Homo sapiens: one gene and its partners. The protein of the gene in region 5 interacts with the protein of the main gene of each other region in a pairwise test. Each region holds a gene or a part of one and is shown on either strand. Other genes may lie near its edges. The genes, in order: SS18L1, SMAP2, PSORS1C1, EPN3 and FAM168A.

The links.
Region 1: the proteins of FAM168A (region 5) and SS18L1 interact in binary tests that used the Homo sapiens proteins (3 or more experiments, as listed by UniProt).
Region 2: the proteins of FAM168A (region 5) and SMAP2 interact in a two-hybrid assay, tested with the Homo sapiens proteins (one large-scale study listed by BioGRID and IntAct).
Region 3: the proteins of FAM168A (region 5) and PSORS1C1 interact in a two-hybrid assay, tested with the Homo sapiens proteins (one large-scale study listed by BioGRID and IntAct).
Region 4: the proteins of FAM168A (region 5) and EPN3 interact in a two-hybrid assay, tested with the Homo sapiens proteins (one large-scale study listed by BioGRID).

Annotation. Positions count from the first base shown.
Region 1 is NC_000020.11:62,164,251-62,167,769, reverse strand, and holds part of SS18L1 (calcium-responsive transactivator), read right to left. Parts: intron 2,349-3,519; coding exon 2,256-2,348; intron 1-2,255. UniProt on the Homo sapiens protein: Transcriptional activator which is required for calcium-dependent dendritic growth and branching in cortical neurons. Recruits CREB-binding protein (CREBBP) to nuclear bodies.
Region 2 is NC_000001.11:40,408,227-40,411,745, reverse strand, and holds part of SMAP2 (stromal membrane-associated protein 2), read right to left. Parts: intron 3,094-3,519; coding exon 3,008-3,093; intron 1,990-3,007; coding exon 1,911-1,989; intron 1-1,910.
Region 3 is NC_000006.12:31,131,795-31,135,313, reverse strand, and holds part of PSORS1C1 (psoriasis susceptibility 1 candidate gene 1 protein), read right to left. Parts: intron 1-3,519.
Region 4 is NC_000017.11:50,535,717-50,539,235, reverse strand, and holds part of EPN3 (epsin-3), read right to left. Parts: intron 2,816-3,519; 5' UTR 2,680-2,815; coding exon 2,118-2,679; intron 1,943-2,117; exon of another isoform or gene 1,735-1,942; intron 1,310-1,734; exon of another isoform or gene 1,158-1,309; coding exon 1,039-1,157; intron 646-1,038; exon of another isoform or gene 482-645; intron 353-481; coding exon 272-352; intron 50-271; coding exon 1-49.
Region 5 is NC_000011.10:73,591,603-73,595,121, forward strand, and holds part of FAM168A (protein FAM168A), read right to left. Parts: intron 1-3,519.

The DNA of each region.
Region 1 (3,519 bases), on a different chromosome or scaffold from region 5:
GTTTTTGGGACAAAGTGTGGCAGCCTTGGGCAGACGCATGTGGACACCTCGCCATGGACAAGGCTGAACCCTGTGCTCCAGCTGGAAGGGACAGGGCCAGGCCCATGATGGCAGAGATCCTGCTGACTCCCAGGGCTTACGGAGGCACCACTGCAGCCAATATGCCAGAAGATAGCCTCTGGGTGCTGGCCACAGGGTGGCTTTTGTTTTGAGACAGGGTCTGGCTCGGTCACCCAGGCTGGAGTGCTGTAGTGCAATCTCAACTCACTGCAACCTCTGCCTCTGGGTTCAAGCGATTCTCCCACCTCAGCCTCCTGAGTAGCTGGGATTACAGGTACCCGCCACCACGCCCGGCATTTTTTTTTTTTTTTTCGGGAGAGAAAGGGTTTTGCCATGTTGCCCATGCTGGCCTCAAACTCCTGAGCTCGGCCGGGCGCGGTGGCTCACGCCTGTAATCCCAGCACTTTGGGAGGCTGAGGCAGGTGGATCATGAGGTCAGGGGTTCGAGACCAGACTGACCAACATGATGAAACCCCATCTCTACTGAAAATACAAAAATTAGCTGGGTGTGGTGGCGGGGCCTGTAATCCGAGCTACTCAAGAGGCTGAGGCAGGAGAATTGCTTGAACCTGGGAGGCGGAGGTGGCAGTGAGCCAAGATCATACCACTGCACTCCAGCCTCGGCGACAGAGTGAGACTCCGTCTCAAAAAAAAAAAAAAAAAAAAACAAACAAACTCCTGAGCTCAAGCAATCCTCCTCCACTGGCCTCCCAAAGTGCTGGGATTACAGGCGTAAGCCACCATGCCTGGCCATTTCTTTTTTTTATTTCTTTTTATTTTTTTTGAGACAAAGTTTCACTCTTGTTGCCCAGGCTGGAGTGCAATGGCATGATCTCAGCTCACTGCAACCTACACCTCCCGGGTTCAAGCAATTCTCCTGCCTCAGCCTCTTGAGTAGCTCAGATTACAGGCACATGCCACCACGTCCAACTAATTTTTGTATTTTTAGTAGAGACGGGGTTTCACCGTGTTGGCCAGGCTGGTCTCAAACTCCTGACCTCAGGTGATCCACCCACCTCAGCTTCCTAAAGTGCTGGGATTATAGGCGTGAGCCACAACACCTAGGCTCTTTCTTCTTTTAAACTTTCATTATGTATTCATGTACTTTTTGTTTCCCCCAGGTTTACAAAGGTGTAACTGACATTTCAACGTTGCAGGCATTCGTAGCGCACACCGTGATGTTTCTATATGTGCCTACACTTGCGTGCTTTATTTCTTCACAGCAGGCTGAGATGTGTAAGCTCAGAAGCAAAACCTTTACACATCCAATTCTTTAAGAAGTAACCCAAACAAGGAAATCTGTAGCCGTTTAGTGCCTGCCTGCTTTGTGTACCTGGTGAAGCCTCACCAACACTGTTACCTCTTGATAAATTGCAGCCCTGCAGTGGGAAGGCCTCAGCCACTGCTGCCTGCCGGTCAGCGTCAGCAGACACGAGGCCCCTCTCCCCAGGGACTGCAGGCCCGCCTTCCCTCCCGGACGAGGTTGCGCAATCCCGCAGGCGATCATCAGCTCTTCTCTGGGGGCCATCTTTATCCCGGGGTGGGACTGGAACGGGCTGTGTGTACCTCTTCCCAACTCCACATTCTGGGATGTTCTGTTGGGGTTTCAGGGCAGCCAGGGTGGGGGCACAGACACCACAGAAAGGGGCAAGTCCACCCGACACGCAGCCCCCAGCGCAGCACTGCCCAGGACCGCCATGAAGGGCGGCAAGCCCCCAGCCACAGATGTGCGTTTCCTGGCCTGCAGGTGTCTGAAGAAACGCGAGGCCACACCCAGCGCAGCCACTGCTGGCCTCCAGCTGAGGAAGCTCTGAGAGTGGCTCGCAGGCCCCACGATCCCTGGCCAGACCCAATAACAGAGTCTGTGTCCCCAACCCCAGCATGGCCGGCTGAATCCTTCCTGTCGCAGGCCCCACGCTCCCTGGCTGGACCCAATAACCAAGTCTGTGCCCCCAACCCCAGCATGGCCGGCTGAATCCTTTCCTGTCTCACGAACACACCCATAAGGCAAGCGGGGCTCCCGACACAGCCTGAATTTCCAGCTTCCAGAACACACTGTCTCTCCTCCCACGCGCTGTGCTGTGATTTAAGGGACTCACTGAAGGCAGGCACCGCGTGCTCCTAAGGGTGCAGCGTCTTAACTCTGCTGCGTGTGGCGCTTACGCTCGAGCCCAGCACGCAGCCGTGCTCCTTACCCCCCTCATAGTAGTGCTGCGTGGACTCCTCGAAGGACCGGTCGTAGCTCTGCTCCGTGTAGGATGACTGCTGGTAGGCGTAATCGCCATGGCCTGTGCGAAACGGAGACGGCGACAGTCAGCGGAGGCTGTGCACTGCACAGGTCCCGGAGGAGGCAACTGAGACCCAGGCTGGGGAGATGTTGTCTGGCCAGGGAGGCAACAAGAGCCGGCAGGACCCGTGTTCCCCAAAACCATGCCCCAACCTCCTGAGCCTCGGCCTCCCCACTGAAATGCAGACATCAATGCCTCCTTCTCGGGGCGACTGTGAAGCTACCTGGGGATTTATGCAGAGGATCAGCGCTTTCAGTGCCTGCCACACAGCCATGCTAGTGACCCGACTGCCTTCTCCCCGCCACCGCTAGCTCCTGGGAGGACGCAGGCAGGGGTGTCCAACCCTTACCGAGGCCTTCGCTGCATGTGACCATCACGTGGCCAGGGTGGCTTGCCCTGCTGCCACCTGCCCACCTGTCTGTGCACCTGCCCCTTGCTGGCTGAGGCCAGCTCCCTGCCTGGATGCCTCCCAGGGATCAATCCAGCCTTTAAGACCACTTTATTTTATTGTTATTTTTACTTTATTTAGAGACAGGATCCTGCTCTGTCACCAAGGCTGGAGTGTGGTGGTGCGATCATGGCTCAATGCAGCTTCAACCTCCTGGGCTGAAGCGATCCTCCTGCCTCAGCCTCCCAAAGTGCCGGAATGACAGGTGTGAACCGCTGTTTTCAGCCAAGACCACTTTCAGTATCCCTTCCACAAGCCCTGGGACTATGCAAAGACTGAAAGGTGACGACGGTAAAATACTCTGCAGAGATGAGAAGGTGCAGGAGGAGAGGTGCTGCAGGTGGAGCCGTCACCTTCAGGGCATTCTCTGTGAAGCTGGGAGGCGCCTTCTTGAACATTTCCACCTATCTACAGCTAGGAGCTACAATTATCCGCCTCCAACTCCCACAGCCTTTCAGGAAGTAGAGGCAAGGCCGCGTGGAGGCCAGTGCAGCGGTGTGTGCCACAGCTTCTCTCTGCAGAGGCCAGGCACCACTGCCAGCCCAGCTCACCCCATCCCCTACCTTGCTCCTGCAGGGCGTCTGGCCACTCTGCCTGTAGCCCAGGCCTGAGCTGGAATGACTGAGGACACACTGCAGTGGCCACACCCTCCTTGCCCTCCTTGCCCTCCTTGCCCCTGCAGCTGCTCTGCGTTCCTGGGCGGGGTCAGGCCGCCGCCAGTGC
Region 2 (3,519 bases), on a different chromosome or scaffold from region 5:
TGTTTTATCTGTCCATTATAAAAAGAATAGTTTTTAACAAAGCCAGTTTCTTTTCATTTGATATTAAACGTCTTCACTTAGCAAATACTAATTATTGGCATAAAAATCTTCACAAAATATGAAAAAAATCTAAGTACATTAAATAACAAATTCTGAAATAGCTTTTTGGTAAATGGGAGGTTATTTCCTTCCTAAGAGAAACATCCGGTAACCGGGCTTGCTTTCATGGGTACAGTATACCAGCAATGAAATCATGAATACCCTGAGGGCAGAGCTGCTGTTTCCACAATAGCTGTGTACAAATAGCAACTCTACTCCTTCGTCATCTGAATTATCTCAGATACCCTTTTCTGACCTCATCTGAGTTCATATCTTTAGGCACAATGAACAGAGCTGGGCAGACAGACCACAGTTTTCTACAAATAAAACGAAATGTGTATGCTTGGGTTCTAAACTGTTTTTGATGATGCCATGCAAGCTGTAGCTGCACACTGGGTTCTTTCTTGGCACAGATATGATATTGACAAGTCCCTTTTCTGGATAACTGCAAGGTAAGAGTCCTTCATACACAGTTGAGAAGGAATCATTTTTACCTAACTATATGTATTACACTTACTTGCCTGTGTTGAAATTCACCTACCAGTTAATGCCCCTTTCACACAGCTTCATAAGATCAGCCTGAAGTGGATTCCAATTAGCTTAACTTTTAATTACCCAGAAGGGCTTGGAGCTCAGTGCAAACAGTGATTTCACTGGCTATTATATCATTATTACATAACTAGAATAGATGATAGATAGGTAGGACCTGCGCTGGAAGTGGAGAATCCCTTACTCTCAATACTTCTGTGACTAGATAAATAGCCAATTATTCCTAAGAGAATTTTCTGTAGAATCTTGTCAAAGGTTATTTAAAGGTATAAATAGTCATATCTATTGGTTCTCCATTAGCTGTCATTAGTTAGGCATATTTTCCTCTTTCAGAAATCATGCTGTCTGTCCCCCTGTGTGTTATATTTGTCCTAGTTATCATATACTGTATTGCAGATTCTAAACATGCCTAGGATGGAATGTGTTCTTGGCAACTGGTAGCCAGTCTCCCTCTGAAACCCTTCTCAGAAACAAGGGTCCCATTGGCAATCAGTCCAACACACTGGTTATCAGCAGGTAATGCTGGAAATATACATTGGTCAAACTGAAGGAAACTCTGGTGATTTAATTACACCTACTTTTGTTGATTTCATTTACAGGAAAAAAGTATATATGTGTGTATATATCTATGTAGATAGATATAGCTGTAGTACATATACACATATACTGTTTTATTTGATCTAGTATATGCAACATGTCCATCCCAAGAAATAATTCAAAACTGGGAATCATCACTAACACCTTCTAACTACAGATTAAGGCAAGAATTCACCGATAGGCAGAAGTTTGTTTCTGCCTCATGGTCTTGACTCAGTAACTGGCACTTTTTACTTTTGCTTAAAAATTTATATTGAGACAGGGTCAAACTCCGTTGCCTAGACTGGAATGAAGTGGTGCAATCACAGCTCACTGCAGCCTCAACCTCCCTGGCTCACGTAATCCTCCGACCTCAGCCTCCCAAGTAGCTGGTTATTACAGGCATGTATACCACCATGCCTGGCTAATTTTTAAATTTTTTGTAGAGATGGGGGTCTTTCTTTGTTGCCCAGGCTGGTCTTAAACTTCTAGGTTCAAGTGATCCTCCCACCTCAGCCTCCCAAAGTGATGGGATTAGGGGATGAGCCACCACACCTGGTCTACTTTTGCATTTTTTAAAAGATGGTTTTGGAGTGTTTTGGTAGCAGTTCTTCAACGTGTTCTCTGGCCTGATTTAATAAGCACATTACTTATTGTGGACAAAACTTGAAAGATGTATAACCAACCCTAAAGGCATTGATGTCCAGACTTCGGTCCATGTATTTCTTCTTCTCATATTTGTCTCGAATAAATCCTTCAACAGCTCTGCAAAAAGCTTATTAAGGATGAATCCAACAAGCCTCTCAAACAGCAAGAAGATAAAAGATCAATTGTGTTCCACGGAGCATTGTTCTCCTCCTTCCCTCTTGCCTGGTTTCCCCACATGGCTCCTGCCTCTTCATATGCAATTTCTCTGACCAAAACCTTAAAATGCCTCTTTCACAGTTAAAGCAGGGAATCATTACTTCCTATGCTTTCCCTTCAGCGTGATGATAGCAGCAAGTGGAATTAACCTTCAAACTGACATTAGAGGCTGTATGTGGCTGTTCTAGAATATAGGTAAAGCAGTCAAATGTCTATTTTAAAGCACTTAGGTCAATAGGCCTCAAACAAAGGCACGTAAGTGCCCCTTAAAAACATAAACTCTTGTGCCCCACTGCCAAATTCTGACCAGTGGGTCTTCTGCAAGGCCCCAAATCTGCATTTAACAGGTTCCACCTGAACCCATTAAAAAAAAAAGAACCTTAACAAGATGATCTACAAACTACATTTTGAGAAGCACTGCCTTTAAGGGATTTGGTTTTGTGTCCTAGGTGCTATGCTCTGTTGAACAGATGGTGGAAGAAAGTTATTGGTTATTGACAAACTGGTAAACAACAGTTAATTCTTTCACCCAAGACATAAAAAGATGATAAAAATGAATGGCAATTTTGCTGACTGCCAGGGTTAACAGAGCACAATGAACTACTCTTTTTAATCAAACAATAGTTTCAGAGATCCAAAATAAACTAGTGGAGATGTAACTTTATAGAAGAATTCACAGTGAAATCACTGCAGTCTTAATTCCAGAGTGAGTCTTCTTCAAGTGACACCGTATGACAATTCCGACATTCACAAATACATGTGCTTTTTGTGCACCTTGATTGCAGGACAGAGGACAAGCAAGGACACTGACTAATCCACATAGAGATGACCCAGTCACATTACAGGACTGGAGTCTTGTCTGACTCTCCCCAAGCATCAAAATACCACTCAGCCTTCTAAGTTGCTCCAGAAAAGATACGGGTCTATCTGAGGTCGCCGAAAGGTCTCAGGAAGATAGGCTTCATAAAGTCGGTTTGCCTTTCCATTTCCCATCTCTTGCATGCACTGTGACCAAAGAGAATGTAGAAACATGGAACGTCAGATCAAGAAAGAACTGAAAAACTTCTCACCCAATTCCACTACTGTACAATTGAAGAACCAACCTAGAGAGTGTCAGAACCAACATTTAAACTTGTGTATTCTGATTTCCAATTCATGATTCCCTCTACCTTACTAGGATTTCCCAATCATTTGCCCCAAGCTGTCTTTCCCCCACTCCATAGGTTCCTTTTACTGAAATATTTGTGTACCAAGATACATTCAATTCAGTAATAAATCAAGATCTCATTTGAAACTCTTAGATACACAGCTACCAATTAAAATGTCTACTTGGCAGGCAATGATCAGTGTTATCATTCTGAGTTTATACTATTAATCAATTCCAATAAATGTGTTTCCCATTAGGCTTTTAAGTAGACTCCTTAACACTTG
Region 3 (3,519 bases), on a different chromosome or scaffold from region 5:
AGTGAGCCGAGATCGCACCACTGCACTCCAGCCTGGGAGACAGAGTGAGACTCCATCTCAAAAATAATAAATAAATAAATAAATACATAAATAGTGATGTGATTTTTAACATGTATTTGCAATTCCTTGAAAAGCATACCCTTTGGAATGCTATTAAATTATTACAAATGTTAAATGTTGACTTAAAAATGTGCAAGGGGCTGGGCAAGGTGGCTCATGCCTGTAATACCAGCACTTCGGGAGGCCGAATCGGGTGGATTGCTTGTGGCCAGGAGTTTGAGACCAGCCTAGGCAACATGGCAAAACTGTTTCTACAGAAAATTTAAGAAATTAGCCAGATGTGGTGGCCCGCACCTGTAGTCCCAGCTACTCAGGAGGCTGAGGTGGGAAGATTGCTTGACCCTGGGAGGTTGAGGCTATAGTGAGCCAAGATGGCACCACTGCACTCCAGTCTGGGCAACAGAGTGAGACCGTGTCTCAAAACAATACAAATGTGCAAGGGACATAGTTTTTCAAAATCCTTTAAAGAGGCAATCAGGTTAGAAGGACAGGAGCTCAGAGATCCCAATGGTCTACTGTCAATCAAGTATCCGACCAGGGTTAGGGATGAAGAGGGGTTAAAAGAAACTGAGGTTGCATAACCTTAAATTTCACCACTTAGAACCCAGTTTGCTTATGTGGTAACTCTCATTAAAAACTACATATGAGAGGCCAGGCGCGGTGGCTCACGCCTGTAATCCCAGCACTTCGGGAGGCCAAGGCGGGCGAATCACGAGGTCAGGAGATCGAGACCATCCTGGCTAACATGGTGAAACCCAGTCTCTACTAAAAAATACAAAAAAAATTAGCCGGGCATGGTGGCCGGCGCCTGTAGTCCCAGCTACTCGGGAGGCTGAGACAGGAGAATGGCGTGAACCTGGGAGGTGGAGCTTGCAGTGAGCCGAGATCGTGCCACTGCACTCCAGCCTGGGCGACAGAGCGAGACTCCATCTCAAAAAAACAAACAAATAAAAAACCAAAAAACTACACATGAGATCAGGCGTGGTGGCTCACACCTGTAATCCTAGCACTTTGGGAGGCTGAGGCGGGTGGATTACCTGAGGTCAGGAGTTCGAGACCAGCCTCACCAACATGGTGAATCCCTGTCTCTACTAAAAATACAAAAAAATTAGCTGGGCATGGTGGCGGGCGCCTGTAATCCCAGCTTCTCAGGAGGCTGAGGCAGGAGAATCCATTGAACCTGGGAGGCAGAGGTTGCGGTGAGCCAAGATCGTGCCACTGCACTGCAGCCTGGGCGACAGAGCAAGACCCCATCTCAGAAAACAAAAAACAAAAAAAAACTACATGTGGTCCGAATGAAACAAAACTAAGCTTAGGGTTTAGGAATAATCTGAGAACACATAAGAATTGTAGGTTGAGCCTAGTAGAATTAAATAGGCCCCAAGCTGGACTGGATTCACCCATTCATTCATTCATTATCTTACTTCCTCAATGTGTCCACGAATGCCGGGTGCCATGGGAGAATATAAGAATATAAATAATAAAAATATGTAGTTTCTACTCAGAACTTAAAATTGAGAGAGACAGAATTTACAGGCAAGTTTAAATAACATCAAAGACAGTAAAAATGCATATTTCCTAATAATGACATGAGCGAGCGCCAACGTAATAGCCTTGGCAGTAAACGCCGTGAGTTCAGAAGAGTCACGGTGAGCTGGACTAGTCAGGGGAGGCTTCTGGGAGGAGGGCCCGGAGCGGGACCTGAGAGAAGAACAGGCAGTGTGTCTGGAGGATGGACCAGGAAGGGCAGACCCGGAGCCTCATACAGGGTGCAGGTACAAAAGCTGCCCCCAGGTGATGAGCTCTCGTGGCCAGAACCACCAGCTCTAGGGACCAGCCCTTGCGCGTATGTGCATCAGCCTTCGTGTGTGCTGTTCCCTATGTCTGGAATGGCCGTCCTCTCCCAAACCAGCTGCATTTCTCCTCAGGGATGCCTCTGCCTACACCACTCCTTCCCGCACCCCACCCGACCCCCAACGCCCTTCACCCCAGTCACCCTATGGCAATGATTTATTCATGTCTGTCTTCCCTTCCCAGGCCATGAACCTTGTGGGGCAGGGACTGTGTTCTACGCATTTCTTCTTGAACCCCTTTACCATTTTTGTGCCTACGGACTCCCAGAGTGCTAAATCACTCCCAACAGCCCCGCCTATGCCTCTGCCGGGACCTTTTCCAGGGGCAGAGAGCTGGAAGCACTTGGAAATTTTTCTCTCCCACATCCTCACATGCCACCACCCTCCCACTCCCCCAGCCCGCCCCCAGACCTTAACCAACGGTGGACAAATATGAAGGTGTCAGTACCCCAGCCCTCCATGAGACTTAGCTTGGTTCCACTCATGTGCTTGGGTCCCACTTTCCCACTCCCTTTCCACTCCTCCCCACCCTCATTACTTTTTTTTTTTTTTAAGACAGGGTCTCACTCTGTCACCCAGGCTAAAGTGCAGTGGCACAATCATAACTCATTGCAGTCTCAACCTCCTGGGCTCAAGTGGTCCTCCTGCCTCAGCCTTCTGAGTAGCTGGTACTATAGATGCACTCCACTCACTGGGCTAATTTTTTAATTTCTTGCAGAAATGATGTCTTGCCATGTTGCCCAGGCTGGTCTGGAACTCCTGGACTCAAGCAATCTTCCTGCCTTGGCCTCCCAAAGCACTGGGATTACAGGTGTGAGCCATCATGCCCAGTCCCCTCATTACTTTTATTTATTTATTTATTTATTTATTCAATTTTTGAGACGGAGTCTCCCTCTCGTTGCCCAGACTGGAATGCAGTGGTGTGATCTCAGCCCACTGCAATCTCCGCCTCCTGAGTTCAAGCGATTCTCCTGCCTCTGCTTCCTGAGTAGCTGGGATTACAGGCATGCGCCACTATGCCCAGCTAATTTTTGTATTTTTAGTAGAAACAGGGTTTCACCATGTTGGCCAGGCTGGTCTCAAACTCCTGACCTCAGGTGATCTGCCCGCCTTGGCCTCCCAAAGTGTCGAGATTACAGGCATGAGCCACTGTGCCTGGCCTATTTATTTTTGAGACAGTTCTCACTCTGTTGCCCAGGCTGGAGTACAGTGGCACGATCACAGCTCACTGAAGCCTGGACCCAAGCGATCCTCCCACCTAAGCCTCCCAAGTAGCTGGATCACAGGCGCATGCCACCACGTCTGGCTAATTTTTTTTGTAGAGATTGGGTCTTACTATATTGCCCAACCTGGTCTCAAACTCCTGAGCTCAAGAAACCCTCCTGCCTCCGCCTCTCAAAGTGTTGGGATTATAGGCGTGAGCCACCCTGCCCAACTTCTCATTAGTTTTAAATAAATCTCTTTTACTTGAATCTTTGTCTCAGGGCCTGCTTCTGGGGAATCCAACCTAGGATGCAAAGTATTTGCTACACACTATTGCAACTACTTTCTACTGCGCATGTGCCATAGGGCACTGTTGGTAAATGCTCTACAGCTTAAGCTCTCG
Region 4 (3,519 bases), on a different chromosome or scaffold from region 5:
CTGCACCATTGGCCATGGGGGAGCCATCACCCTGCCAGGACCTCACCTCCTGCAGAAGGCACAGAAAGAGTTAGGAGCATGAGCAGCTCAGGCGGGAATCCGGGGACCTGTGCACCAGAGGCTGGAGTCGAGAGAGTGCAGGGTGGGAGGCAGCTGAGAGGTTAGGAGCAGCAGGGCCACCGGGTACAGCGGGAGGAGGCTGTTAGTGCCCTGAAGCACCTCCACCAGCAGCAGCAGCAGCACCGGCAGCCCAGCGGGCTCGGCCCACTACCTTCTCGTGCTCCTGCCGGCTCAGGCGCAGAGCCAGCTGCAGCTGCAGGTCCTCGTCCCTGTGGGAGGCTGGGGGGACAGGCTGCGGAGGAAGAGAGGGGTAAACTTGGCCCTGTACCCCCACCTTGGGACCAGAAGGGCAGTATAGGCCTGCCTGGGTCATGGGGATGGAGACACTAATGCCCACCCTCAGTGTGCATGGGCCATTTGCCGCTCAGTCAGCAGGGTGGGCGTGGCCTTCTCCCTGCCTGCATCTGAAATGCAGTTTAAAGGTCAGGAAGACTGATCTTTCGCTTCTGAATCCTCTGAGAGTTCCTCAGGCCCTCCTGTGTGAGGCCCAGCTGCTTCCTGCCTGGTCTTCCTGGATCCACAGAGGTAATGGCAAAGATGATGATATCGGGGGCCTGTCCTTGTCTCCCCAAAAGGATAGCTGGTGGGCGGGGGTGGGAAGCATATCCCAGTGTCTCCTAGGAATATGTCTGAGCACACTCACCCACTCCACCATGAGGTGGTAGCAGGCACCCCAAGACATAGCATGTGCCCCTAATTGTACACTCGCCACCCTTTCCAGGCCCAGTGGAGAGGACTGGAGGCAGGGAGGCAGTCCCTGCCTGCGACAAACCGACAGAGATAATGGGTCTTGTGCTGTCCTTGGGCACAGGACTGGGGCTTTGGGTGACAGAGCCTGAGTCAAGGCCAAGGGGCTCCCAGGCACTCTCTCCCCCTAGCCCATCCCCTCCCCACCGCAGTGGGGCTGCATGGCCTCACCTTCTCTGCCTCCTCACGGCTCATGGCGAGGGCCAGCTGCAGCTGCAGTTCCTCTTCCCCTGACGTCTGAGGCCGGGCCTGCTCCAGGTCGGAGGTATAGCGGGGTGACGAAGAGGAGGCTGCAATGACCATCATGTCTCTGTGACCACACGATTACCCATCGGCTCCCACACCCCTCTGCCTGCCAGGAAGCTGAGGCTCAAGAGAACTGAGAGGAGGGGAACAACGGCCGTTGAGGCCCCCGTGGGCCAAGCAGTGTGCCAGGCACTCTGTAAGTTCCCCATCCCAACCCATCCCGGATGGAGGGGCGGCTCCAGTCCCTCCTTAGCAGATGCACAGGCGGCACTTAGGGCCCCTGACCAGGTTCCTGAAGCAGGACTTGAACCCAGGTGCCCTGACTCCAGCTCTTGGACTTCCAGATGGACCCTGTCCTGGCTTGGGGGCAAGGGAGGTGCAAGGATAGGAGGTTCTAGTCCAACGAGGTCACAACCTCAAAGCCCTCAGCAAACTGTCAAGGGCTTTATGGAAGGCGGGCCATTCTGAGTATTCCTCAGATCCTGGAAGCCCCCATGACTGGGGGCAGGAGAGTCAGGGACTGTCTAGCCGCTGCCCTCAGGTAGGGGGATGAAGGGGAATGCCATGTGTCTGGGTGCAGGGTAGAGGACGTTCCTGAACCTGGTCTCATTTCATTCTCAGATCAAACAATGGAGGTAGGTGAGCTTATCCCCACTGTACAGATGAGGAAACTGAGGTTCAGAGAACTGGTTGCCCAGGTCACACAGCTTGGAGGAAGCAGAATATAGAATGCTATCTGACTCCAAACCCATGCTTCCACTATCGCGCCATCCTATCAGGCAGCTAACGAATGATAATGAATCTATAACAACGTTATTATCTGAGCTAACTTGTTGAGCACCTCCTATGTGCCGGGTGTTGCGCCTTGCGTGTTACATTCCTTATGTCTGAATCTTCATAACACCCCTCGGAGGTAGGTATTATGAACCATGGCTTGGATTGCAGAGCCAGGAATGGAAGTCGGGCCACCTCCCCATCCCAGCCACACACCGGGGCTTACTCACAGTTGTAGGAGGACGGGGAGCCCCGGGAGCGGCTGTAGTCCTCGCCGTAGCGGCGGCTGAAGCCCAGCTGCCCACTGCCAATGCCGATGCCCTCCAGTGCCATGCGCTCCTTGGTCTTGAGGGCGTGGGTTCGCTCCTGCCGCAGCCGCTCCTCATCCTTGAGCAGGGCCATCACCTGCTTGACCTTCTCGCGCACGTTGACGCCCTGGTCCTTGCCGTCGCGGTCGATGTACTGGAAGTCCTTGAGTGTCTGGATGGTGTAGAGGTTCTCGCGGCACTGGTGGGCCACCCGCTCGGAGCCCGTCTTGAGCAGGTAGTCCAGCAATGTTAGAGCCTTGTACACGTGCCGCCAGTTCTTGCCGCTGTCATTGAGCCGCCGCCACAGCATGCCCATGACTTCGGTGAAGGCCACTGTGTTGAAGGTCAGGTCAGCGATCTCGGACATGAGCGAACTAGGGGGGCCCCAGGGGTCATTGCTGGTGGCCTCGCGCACCTTGATTTCTGCCTCGGAGTAGTTGTGCACGATGTTCTTCACCTGGCGCCGGAGTGCGGAGGTCGTCATGGCTGGAGACTTGGAGGTGGGTGGCCCTCGCCCCCGCCGGAGGTGGAGGGCTGAGGGCCACTGTGGCGAGGTCACAGTCTTGAAGGATGGGCTGCCGTGTTAGCAGAGCAGCTGCATCCTTGGGTTCCACATGGGGCTGAGGAAGAGAGGGCCAGGAACTCAGGGGCAGAGGCCTACCTCATGGGTCACTCAGCCACTGACCAACTAAATGAGGCCTGGCCAGAGTGTCCCTGCCTCCAGGGACAGCCTTCAGCGGCACACGTTCTTATTTCACTTACAATTCAGCAGGCACTTGGAGCTTTGCATGCTCATCTATCTATCTTCACAGCCACACCCCAAAGATGCTATTATCATTACCTCCATCCACAGATGGGAAAGGTGGGGCTCAGAGTATTAAATGGGCCCGGTGCAGTGGCTCACGCCTGTAATTCCAGGACTTCAGGAGGCCAAGGCAAGAGGATCACTTGAGGCCAGTAGTTGGAGGCTGCAGTGAGCCATGGTCAGGCCACTGGGCAACAGAGCGAGACCCTGTAATATTAAGTGACTTGTCCGAGATCACAGAGCTGCTGCATGGGGAACCAAGATGACCCCAGGAAGCCCCACCTAAGAGTGCATGGCCTCATGGGGGAACGCTAACAGGATTCCAGGAATGCCCGCTTGCCTTGCTTCTGCTCGGCCACTGCCTCTGTTTCTGCTGAGATCTAGCTTAAGACCTATCCTTCCTAGCTCCTCAGCTCACTTTTCTCATATTGTTAATTTTTGTAGTTTGATGCATTCAACACCTATTTCCCGGAGGCCTTTTCTGAGCCAGGCACCATGCCAGGCACAGAACACACGCCT
Region 5 (3,519 bases):
GGGCTCAAGTGATCCTCCCACCTCAGCCTCCAAAATAGCTATGAACAGAGGTGCACGCCACCACATCCAGATAATATTTTTGTTTTTTGTAGAGACTGGATCTCACTATGTTGATCAGATTGGTCTTGAACTCCTGGGCTCAAGCGATCTTCCCACCTTGGCCTCCCAAAATCCTGGGATTACAGGTGTGAGCCACTGCACCCAGCTACCCTCTTAGAGTCTTAATTTCTTCATCCTTAAAATGAAAATAATGCCACATGACCAACCTAAGAACTATATATAAAATGGCGCCATTATATTTGCATAAGTATAAATAGCATAGCTGTTATCTACTGATAGAGACATTTGCTATCAACTCAAAATAAAAGATAGAGGAAGACACATTAGAAAACTAAAATACTTAGAAAAATTATAAAACAGAGGCTAGAAAAGAAATACAAGTTAGCAGAAATCGTCAAGCTTGAGCGACATGATCAGAAGGCAAATCAAGATCATAATCTCAAGTAGCCAAGGATTGAAGTTTACTGTGAAAAATATATCATCTCAGGGTTCCTTCAAAATGTCTATATCTAAGAAAAAGCACAACCTATATCATCATAAAATAGGCATATTCTGAAAGGACCCAGACACCTGCCTAACTGGCAGGAGGAGGAGGTGTATTGGAACTTTATAAACTGAGGTTTTCTCAGAGTGTCTTCATACAGAAAATAATGGCTCATTTAATAAAATGTTAAACTTTTAGATAAACATAATTTGACAAAAAAATTCTATACCATTGTTTTCAATACTAAAGATATGCATAACTGTCCAAGGAAGTAAATTTAACAAAATAGAGAAAGAAATATGAACTTGGTTTAGTCTCTTTCCTCTTCAATATTTTACAACTTTGAGTTGATTTCTGTTAACGTACCAGGGGTCGGCCAGCTATGGCCCGCCCATGGCCTATTTTTGTATGGCCTGTGAGTTTTACATTCTTAAAACCACATAAAAGGAGGAGAAAGAGAAGGGGAGGGAGAAGAAGGAATGGGGAGAAGCAAGAGGAGGGGCTTCAGGAAGGAGAAGAACGGGGAGGGAGATGGGGAGACAAAAAGGAAGGGGAGTGGAAGGGAGGAGAAAGAACAACAGAGGCCATATGTGGCACAAAATATTTTCTACAAAAAGCATTTGCCAGCCAGGCATGGTGCCACATGCCTGCATTTGTAAGCACTTTGGGAGGCCGAGGAAGGAGGATCACTTGACCAGGACAACATAGCGAGACCCTGTCTCTACCAAAAAAAAAAAAAAGTGTTACTGGGTAATAGGACTAAAAACAATACTTATGCTTCTTTTTACTTTTTGTAATTTCTAGTTTTTATCATGAGCACACATTATTTAATGGTGGAAGAAATAAAGCTTTTTTAAAAGTTAAAAAATAAGAATAAGAATAAAGCAAGTCAGAAGAATATTTATCCTATAATTCTATTTATAAAAAGTTGCAAAGGTAAAAAATATACTGTTTAGGGATATGCACATATTTGGTAAAAGTATAAAGAAAAGCAAAGAAATGATTCACATAAAATTTAGGAAACTGTTTATCTCTGAGGGAGAGAGAAGATGGGAGATTCAATCAAGTAGGACCTCACAAGAGGCTTTAAAGGTACTAGAAATCTCCTTTTTGTTAAGCTGGGTAGCAAGTAGAAAAGCCTTCAATTTGTTATTCTTTAAGTTGTGGGTTTATGTTAAATATACTTTTATACATATGACATATTTTACAATTTAAAAAAAGGATATAAATGGGGATGACAAATTAGAATTTGGGGGCTGTAACCCAGACTTTTCCACTGACTGTGTAACCTTAAACAAGTCATTTAACCTCTCAGAGCATAATTTTTCTTCTTATTTTATTAATGAGGAAGCTAACAGCTAACATCTGTTTAGGACTTTGGCATTTAAAGAACTGTTTAAAGTTCCTAGACTGTAAACATGCAAATATGCATGAGATCATAAAACAAAATCATACCTCATTAATAAATACCACAATACTAAGAACTCATTGGTAGGGCACACAAGGCTATTCACCATTCTAGCCTCTGCCTATCTTTCTAACAATAAAGGCAACAACTAATTTTTTTAATGTGTACTATAAAACATATTGTGTGAAATGCTTTCCATTGATTATCTTATTTAATCCTCAAAACAATCCTATGATGTTAATTCTATTATTCGCACTTTACAGATGAGCCCATTGTGCCCAACGTCACACAGCTAATAGTAAGTGGTAGACAGACTTCAAAACCCACATTTAACCATAGCATTCATTTTGCCTCACTTTTCTCACCGTATTTGTCTATCTTTCCCATGACACTGAAAGCTCCTTGACAACTGCTTTCTGTTCATTTTTATTTCCCCTGGCACTTAGCAGACATTCATTAAATAAATAAATAGTGAACAGATATTTCATATATGTACAGTGTTTTCAGGACATGAACTGGTTTGTTCCCCTTGACAGCCTTGTGAAGTATGAAAGTTTGATTGTGTGACAGGGTCTCATTCTGTAACCCAGACTGCAGTGCAGGGAAGCACGATCATGGCTCACTGCAGCCTTGACCTCCCTGGCTCAAGCAATCCTCCCACCTCCCTCCTGAGTATCTGGGATTACAGGTATACGCTACCACACCCAGCAAATTTTTTTTTTTTTTTGTGGAGACGGGTCTCCCTATGTTGCCCTCACTGGTCTCGAACTCCTAGGCTCAAGCAATACTCCCAGCTCAGCCTCCCAAAGTCTGGGATTATGGGCGTGAGCCACTATGCCTGGCCAGTTTTTTTGGTTTTTGAGGTTTTTTTGTGTGTGTATTTTTACCTTTTTAACCAAAGTTAAGTGTACAATTCAGTGGTATTAACTATGTTCACAATGTTTTGCAGCCATTACCACTAAATATGAAAGGTTTTTTGTTTGTTTTTTGTTTGTTTGTTTTGAGACAGAGTTTCGCTCTTGTTGCCTATGCTGGAGTGCAATGGCGCAATCGTGGCTCACTGCCCACCTCCCCAGTTCTAGCAATTCTCCTGCCTCAGCCTCCCAAGTAGCTGGGATTACAGGCACGTGCTACCAGCTAATTTTTGTATTTGTAGTAGAGATGGGGTTTTGCCATGTTGGCCAGGCTGATCTCAAACTCCTGACCTCAAGTGATCCACCCACCTCGGCCTCCCAAAGTGCTGGGACTACTGGCGTGAGCCACCACGCCTGGCCATCTGAAAGGTTTTTAATGACTTGACTGAAATCACTCAGCTTTCAAGTAGTAGAACTGGGATTTGAATCTGGGACTCAACTCCTAAACTCATGGGCTATTCGTTCCACAAAGGCTTCTGTCTATCAATACCTCCATCTGCTCTCTTCTCACCAAGATATCGGGAGGATCAAATGAGGTAAAGATACAAAAACACATTACTACTACACAGGTAACCACGGCTGTGGAAAAAAAAAATCCACCAACACATTTCTCCCAGGCACTTTTCATTTTGGGCTTTCAAAAGCTAGGGCTT